Homo sapiens: one gene and its partner. The protein of the gene in region 1 purifies or fractionates together with the protein of each later gene. This does not show direct contact. Each region holds a gene or a part of one and is shown on either strand. Other genes may lie near its edges. The genes, in order: FOLH1 and CTH.

Evidence for each region.
Region 2: the proteins of FOLH1 (region 1) and CTH fractionate together in Homo sapiens (co-fractionation; one large-scale study listed by BioGRID). This does not show direct contact.

The regions. Positions count from the first base shown.
Region 1 is NC_000011.10:49,205,610-49,210,220, forward strand, and holds the start of FOLH1 (glutamate carboxypeptidase 2), read right to left. Parts: upstream 2,994-4,611; 5' UTR 2,801-2,993; coding exon 2,683-2,800; coding exon of another isoform or gene 2,615-2,682; intron 2,287-2,614; exon of another isoform or gene 2,155-2,286; intron 1,266-2,154; coding exon of another isoform or gene 1,169-1,265; intron 564-1,168; coding exon 458-563; intron 1-457. UniProt on the Homo sapiens protein: Has both folate hydrolase and N-acetylated-alpha-linked-acidic dipeptidase (NAALADase) activity. Has a preference for tri-alpha-glutamate peptides. In the intestine, required for the uptake of folate.
Region 2 is NC_000001.11:70,428,066-70,431,882, forward strand, and holds part of CTH (cystathionine gamma-lyase), read left to right. Parts: intron 1-1,728; coding exon 1,729-1,786; intron 1,787-2,251; coding exon 2,252-2,329; intron 2,330-3,817. UniProt on the Homo sapiens protein: Catalyzes the last step in the trans-sulfuration pathway from L-methionine to L-cysteine in a pyridoxal-5'-phosphate (PLP)-dependent manner, which consists on cleaving the L,L-cystathionine molecule into L-cysteine, ammonia and 2-oxobutanoate.

The DNA of each region.
Region 1 (4,611 bases):
CAAATCTGGACCACTAACTGTTTCTGTACAGTCCACAAGCTAAGAATGGTTTTTATATTTTAAATTGGTTTTAAAAATAATATTTTTGACACATCAATTATATGAAATCCAAATTTCAGTGCCCATAAGGAAAGTTTTATCAGAACTGACTGTTTATGTATTTTCTATGACTTCTTTTGTGCTGCAATAGCAGAGCTGACTAGATGTGACACAGATCAGCTGGCCTACAAAGGCTGGTCCTTGTACAGAAAAAGTTTGCTGACTCCTGCTCTAAACCTCTGTAATGACAAAATTTAGCTGAAAGTATAGTCCTCCTCAGATGAAATGTGATCCAAGATCTTTAATAAATAAAATTTTAAGAAAAAAGTCCAGTTCCTATATATAAAATATTGGACCAAAACAGAATGATAAATTTTTCTAACAACTTGTCCATATAAACTTTCGAGGATGTACTTACTATAAGAACTTCTTGATGTTCTCAGCTTTCAATTCATCCAAAAATGCTTTCATATTATGCTTTGGAGTAATGTTAGTAGCTTCATTGGAGGATTTTATAAACCACCCTGAAAAATACATCCAAAAATAGGCATGAGATACGAGCCTATAGATAGGACTTATTTTTCATTATTGTTGTATGTATTATTTGTAAAACACAAATTATCAATATTACCTCTGACATTAGGTGAGATATTTCTGAATTTTAATTTCTCTTGCCTACTTTCACTGAAAAAGAGTCATGCAAACAGATTTTTAAGTTGCAAACCAATTGCAAAATATTTCTTATCCAACTTCAATGATAGGTATTGCTGTTATTCTAAGAAATGTTTTATGAGATAATCAGGACGAAAATAAAATGACATTAATGTTTCAACTAATGGGTGTAAACGAGATGTTCTGAAAATGAAGGCAAAAAGGAGATCCACCTTCTACTTTCATAAAGTTTCTATCTTCCTCTGCTGACTCAAATAAGCATTTAATACATTTTTATAACGAATTAATTATGAATATATTTCAAATAAATAAATTATTTCCAAGTGTTGAAGGAAATTCAGACTTCTAATTTGCTCTGATTCTGAAACTAAAACAAAATGCTGTGAGAGTTTGCGTTTCCAGTGAAGTAGGCGTGAGAAATCCAAGTTCAGACAGCTACAATGAAACTACAATTTACCCAGCCTCTCTGCCAGACACCCAGTGCACGCATAGGCGGCCAGAAACAATGGATAGCTAGATCCTGCAGTCATTAGACCTTGCAGTTGGCTTTTAACCTGAAGGAGATAAGGCAAGATTCCAGGGTTTATTTAGAGAAATTACAGGATCTGGGAATAAAGTAGTTACAAAATTAGTCCCCAACCAGCTTTCATGGAGCTTTCCAATTATTAATTATTCTAGTTCTTAATCGCATGCATACAAATGCACATACATATATACATGCATATTAAAATACATGATTGCACGCAAACGGAAATAAGATTCCACCTGTGCATAAAACAGAAAGACTTGGATTAGAGTGAGGGATCAGGAAACACCACACTGAGGACGAGATGCTTGAACTGAGATCTGAAAAATGAACAGGATGAAGAGGATGGAGGCCTGTAGGGGGAGGGGAGAGCAGAGAATCCTAGTGGGTGGGGGGCGGACATCAATAAAGAACTCTTCTGTGTCAGCCACTGAGCACGGAATACAGGGATGAGAGTGAGGGCAATACCAGGAAGAATAAAATCCTTTTAAGAGATGAAGATTGTTATGAGCACAGTGTGTGGTTCAAAAATCTTTTAACAACCCCAAGGTGAAGCTAGTGGAAGATATTGAATTTGTTTAAACCCATCTGGTCCATGCCCTGTTCTTCTAAATCCCGAAAGAGGGTCAAGAATTCCGAGCAGGAGTGGACTACCTGGTGATACCTTAGACTAGTCCTGTGTATTAAAGTCCAATGAGGAGTATCTTGGTAAAAGAAGAAATAAAGTGGCGAAAATCCCAGTACTGTGCTAGGAGATTTACATGCTATATTATTTACTATTACCAATAATTTGCAGATAATATTATCCTCATCATAAAATAGGGTAACTAACGCTGAGAGGGACTCGGTAACTTGTTCAAGGCCACTAAGAAGTGGCAAAGTCAAAACTGGAATTTAATAAAAGAGTCTGAGCTTGCCTGTGTGGTTCTGCTTTTCTTAGAAAGTTGGATCAAGTCTGCAAATCAGTACCCAGGAAAAACAGCAAAAGACCCGCTGGTAAAGACCTGTCCAGATTGCTGACCTGGTTCACACAGTTCCCAAGCTTGCCTCTGTTACTTCCAAGGAAGAAAGAATGCACAGAGAGGTAAAAAAACAAACAAACAAACAAAACAAAACAAAACAAAACAAAAGCAAAAAAAAAACTTCCTCTGTCTTGCAGGGCTCCAGCACTTGGAACCTTCCTACGCCCAGTTTCAGGTTCTCTCAGTTCTACCCTCAACCTGAGTGACTGTCCTACCAGCAGCTTGTCGAGAACTCAGCCCTGCACCGTTCCCAGCTACCCTCCTCCTAACTCGAGGGGTGCTCACCCCACATTACCCCGACCCTAATCGCCGCCCCTGGGGAAGACCAGCAACAGGATCCCACTCGGCAGCTGACCCGCGAGTCCCAGCACCGCGGCACCACGGGGAAGACTCCGAGGTTTGCTCCGCGAGGCGCCCCCCTACCGAAGAGGAAGCCGAGGAGAAAGAAGCCACCCGCCAGCACCAGCGCCCCAGCGCACAGCCAGCGCGGGCGGCGCGCGGTGGCCACAGCCGAGTCGGTTTCGTGAAGGAGATTCCACATCTCGGCGCGAGCAGAGCCGGCCTCCCGGGACCCGCGCCTGTGCTGCTGCTCTACTGCGCGCCCTCCAACCACCACGGCGGGGTAAAGTCTCTCTCAATCTCACTAATGCCTCGCTTATCAGCCCTGCAGGCTGGAATTCGCTCCAGACCTGGGGTCCAGTTTCTCCACCACAGCAGTGTTTCTAGAGTGCACTGAACCAATCCGAGCGAGAGAGAGAGGCAACATCTGCCTCCAGGAGAAGGAAATCCGGCCCCTTTTGAGAGGCGCCTTAAAAAAAAAAACTTTCTTGGAAAATGTCCAGCTCTTGCTTAAATATAAAAATGAAAGGAAGAAAGAGACTCTCCTCTCTCCACTCCTATAATTATGAGGAACTTTTATTCAACTCTGAAATTCTATACAATCTCTACAATACTCTACTGAATAAAAGCAGAGCAGAAAAAGCTGCGCTTTTTTTCCATAGTCGGGAATGCTTGTCATCAGTGTAAATCACCACCGCGCCCTTTTTCCTAAAGAATATTATTGTTATTAATAAACATGTAGGGTATTATCCTCCACTTACATTACAAAACCATTTTTTAAAGCCGGGCGTGGTGGCTCACGCCTGTAATCCCAGCACTTTGGGAGGCCCAGACAGGCGGATCACGAAGTCGAGAAATCGAGACCATCCTGGCCAACATGGTGAAACCCCATCTCTACTAAAAATACAAAAATTAGCTGGGCGTGGTGGCGGGCTCCTGTAGTCCCAGCTACTCAGGAGGCTGAGGCAGGAGAATCGCTTGAACCGGGGAGGCGGAGGTTGCAGTCAGCCAAGATAGCGCCACTGCACTGGAGCCTGGTGACAGAGTGAGACTCCCTCAAGAAAGAAAGGAAGGGAAGGGAAAGGGAAGGAAGGGGAGGGGAAGGGAGGGGAGGGGAGGGGAGGAAAGAAAAGAATACTGGAACTTGTTGAAGGCAGAGACTTTATTTTCATATCCCGGCTATGTCTGGCTACTGTCTTACGTAATAGATATAAAATCAATCTTGGTTGGATTAACCAGAAGAATCATCATACAAAATTATATCCCCGCTATAAATTCTTAATAATAATAATCGTATTTCAAGGGAGAGAATAGCTACATGCTTTATAAAATAAACTGTGTTCTTATAATCCGTGAGAGAGGCCGTGCATTTGCTAGGAGTACTTTATGGAAGCACTGCTTTTAACAGAACCATAAGGTACAGGTAGGATTTGACCCAGTGGAGATGAGAAGAAACATTAGGGGCCATGGGCCAGCTGAGTAGGCAAAGGCAGAAAACTCAGAGTGTATTCAAGGAATAGCAAACAGTTTGCTTTGAGAAAGGGAGAGCACAGTATGAGTTAAGTGGAAAAAGATGGACTAGATTGTACAGTCTTGGGTGCTTCGATGTAGACTTTCTGAGCAAAGTGAAAAATTTGGGAAAATTAATTTGTCAACAATGAACCATGACAACTCCTAGATGACCTAGGGCAGGAAGGAAGGGAATTTCTTCATCTCTTTCTAACAAAATCCTGAATGTACTATATCTTTCCTAATGTTCCTATTGTCAAATCTAATCAGAGATGGCTAATAATAGTGACTAATATTTAAAGAGCACTTATTATGAGTGATGCATGTTATGTACATCACCTCATTTAATCACCATTGGGACCCTTCAAGGTTTGTTCTATTACTCTTCCCGATTTACACATGGTAAAACTGAAATTTAGCTAGATTAGGTAAGTCATTCGAAGTCACAAAGCTAAGACTTAATATAATGTCTGTCTTACTTTGTACCACTCTACAGTCTCTATT
Region 2 (3,817 bases), on another chromosome or scaffold:
AATACATTTTAAGACTACAGGATTAACCTAGAGGACATTATGTTAAGTGAAATAAGCCAGGCACAGACAGACATATATAGCATGATCTCATTCATGTGTGGAATGTAAAAAATGTTGATCTCATAGAAGTAGTGAATAGAACAGCGGTTACTAGAGTCTGGGGAAGGGAGGGTGGAGGTGGGGAGGACAGAGGATGGTCAATGGGTACAAAGTTACAATTAGAAGGAGGAATAGAGGAATAAGTTTTGGTGTTCTACTGCACAAAAGGATGATCATAGTTACAATAAGATACTGTATATATCAAAATAGGAGAGAGGATTTTAAATGTTTCTACTACAAAGAAATGATAAATATTTGAGATGATGGGCATGCTAATTACCCTGCTTTTGATCATTACACAATTACACATGTATTGAGCATCACATTATACTCCATGACTTAAAGGATTAATTTACAGGAAAATTGGGTGAAAGAAAACACTTTTAAAAATTCCTTTTCATTTTTATTTTTCTTAATTCTCCCAGTTTCAGACATATTTATTTATTTATTTATTTATTTATTTGAGACAGAATCTTGCTCTGTCACCCAGGCTGGAGTGCAGTGGTGTCATGAAAAGCTCACTGCAACCTCTGCCTCCTGGGTTCAAGTGATTCTCCTGCCTCAGCCTCCTGAGTAGCTGGGATTACAGGTGCGTGCCACCATGCTCAGCTAATTTTTTTGTATTTTTAGTAGAGATAGGGTTTCACCATGTTGGCCAGGCTGGGCTCAAACTCATGGCCTCAAGTGATCCACCCACCTCAGCCTCCCAAAGTATTGGGATTACAGGTATGAGCCCCCGCACCCAGCAAATTTCTTTCTTTCTTGTTGTTTTTTAAGATAAAGTCTTGCTCTGTCACTCAGGCTGAAGTGCAGCGGCTTGATCATGGTCCACTGCAGCCTGAAACTCCTGATCTCAAGTGATCCTTCTGCCTCAGCCCCCTAAATTGCTGGGATTACAGGAGTGAGCCATTCTCCAACTCCCAGCCGTCTAGATTTCTTGTAATACCTAATACAATGTACATGCTTTATAAATGGTTGTTACACTATATTGTTTAGGAACTAATGACAAGAAAAAAGTCTGTACATGTTCAATACAGACACAACTGTTCATCTATTTTTCCAAGTATTTTTTTACCCATGGTTGGTTGAATCCATGGATGTGAAACCCACACATAGGAAGGGCTGAGTAATTAGGAATCAAGATCATGACAAACCCCAAATGTAAATAATCACAGCATACGTCATGAGGTTTTAATGATTAAAAATCTAAGCAGATGAGTTTATACTTACTCTACATAAAAATTGCTGAATGTTCATTTCAACTATTTTATGTGTTTAATGAGTCATAAAATACTAGAGTCTCTACTGTAGGTAATAAATTTAGAGTCCTGTCAGCAATTGCTATAAAGAAACAGGTTCAAGAGACCAGTTGACCTGGGCTTATCTGCGCTTTCCAAGAAACTTTTGCCTTCAGATTCAATACTGGATTCAATACTTTACATTTTTCTTTGGTGGGAGGGAGGCAAAGGAGAAATAATATCAGAGATCCTGGAAAATTTTAAGATGCACATACTTTTGCAAAGTTAGTATTGATTAGAATAAGAATGGAATTTATAATTGCAAATAGGCAGGTAATGAAGCATATTTTCAAATTGTTTCTCATTTAAAGTAAAAAACTTGTTCTTTCAGCGCCCTTTGGCTCTGGGAGCTGATATTTCTATGTATTCTGCAACAAAATACATGAATGGTAAGATGCATACTTTGAATGTTCTTTTTCATGGATAGGTGAAAATTGCATAGGGCTTGGCTTTTGATCCCTTTTCTTTGATTATTTTGTAGATTATTTCCTGTGACTCATAGAGAGAGTAAAAAAAAAAATCCTTTGATTAAATGTAGGATTTCATTAACAGTACACAAAACTATGCTCATGATTTATGAGAAGAGGATTAAAGTTGGCCATAAAAAGTTATGCTTTTATCTTGCTGACACCTTAAAGAAACATTTTGTTTTTATATAATTTTTATTTTCTTGTTTTAGACATAGCTTTTGCTACTGTCCAGTTGAATAAAGGTTACTTAAACTTATTTTATAGAGCTTTTTCCCTGAGAGTTTTTTCAAGTGAAAATCACATTTTGAAAATTATAAAATAAAGAGTAAACATAAATTGTTTCTAACTGAAATTTTTGTTTGTTTGTTTGTTTTTTGTTTTTAGGCCACAGTGATGTTGTAATGGGCCTGGTGTCTGTTAATTGTGAAAGCCTTCATAATAGACTTCGTTTCTTGCAAAACTGTAAGTATTAAAAAGTGCAGGTTCCCTATGACACTCTCAGTGACTACATTTGATATTTGTATTTCCACTAAGTGATGTGAAGTGATGGCATTCTAATAATTTATGAAGAAATGAAAAATAGAGGAGAAAAATTCTGATTTTTTTTATTTATTAATTTTTTTTTTTGAGATGGAGTTTCACTCTGTTGCCCAGGCGGGAGTGAAGTGGCGTGATCTCAGCTCACTGCAACCTCCACCTCCTGGGTTCAAGCGATTCTCCTGCCTCAGCCTCCTGAGTAGCTGGGATTACAGGTGCCCACCACCATGCCCAGCTAATTTTTTATATTTTTAGTAGAGACGGGGTTTCACCGTGTTGACCAGGCTGGTCTCAAACTCCTGACCTCAGGTGATCCACCTGCCTTGGCCTCCCAAAGTGTTGGGATTACAGGCATGAGCCACCGTGCCTGGCCAAAAAAATTTTTTCTGATTTTAGAGGAAAGTGTTATAAAAATAGTTATTGCAGGCTGGGCACGGTGGCTCATGCCTGTAATCCCAGCACATTGGGAGGCTGAGGCAGGTGGATCACTTGAGCTTAGGAGTTTGAGATCGGCCTGAGCAACATGGCAAAACCCTGTCTTTACCAAAAATACAAACCAATTAGCCAGGTGCAGTGGCATGTGCCTGTGGTCCCAGATACTCAGAGGCTGAGGCAGGAGGATTACCTGAGCCTGGGAGGCGAAGGTTGCAGTGAGCTGACATCGTGCCACTGCAATCCAGCCTGGGCAACAGAGTGAGATCCTGTCTCAAAAAACAAAAAACAAAAACGGTTATAGCATAGCAAGGCTTTATGATATGATATAAGAAATGAGTTTTTTTATTTTCATGTCCATCTTAATTATAATCATAATTTGATAAAGCCCTAGTGAATTTTTAGTTTCAAGACTTAATGGTTTTTTTTTCTTTTTTAAAATTACATTTGAAATGAGGGCTTTCATATACTATACCTTTTATATCACGAATGATGGTTAATTTTAAATAGCACTTACAGTATAAACTTACATTTTTCAATAGATGTCTAAACACCATTTCCTATTTACATTGCTTAGTTTATCTCCAGTATAGTTAAAGATTAAGCCATTGTAACTTGACAGGTAAAATATAAACATGATTAGGAATAAAAATGTCCTCCACAAGGGAAACTGAAACTTATTGCTTGATAAGTGTCCTTTGGTTTATAAAAAGTAGAAATGAAGTATATATCCTGGAGGCATGTGAAATCATTGACCGCTTTGCACAAAGGCTAAATAGAATATTAGTAGAATATTCAGTAATAATAGGACTTGAACTGCTGTTTTTCTCTGTATGTTAAAATAATTTTTCAAAGAAATACAAGGTTAGGCTATGAACAATTTATGATTTTATTAAAATCATAGAAAGGACTACTTATCTTCATATTTGAGAAGTTTATATCATTGTGCTTTTACTTAGTTTTCAGCATATTTGCTTCCCC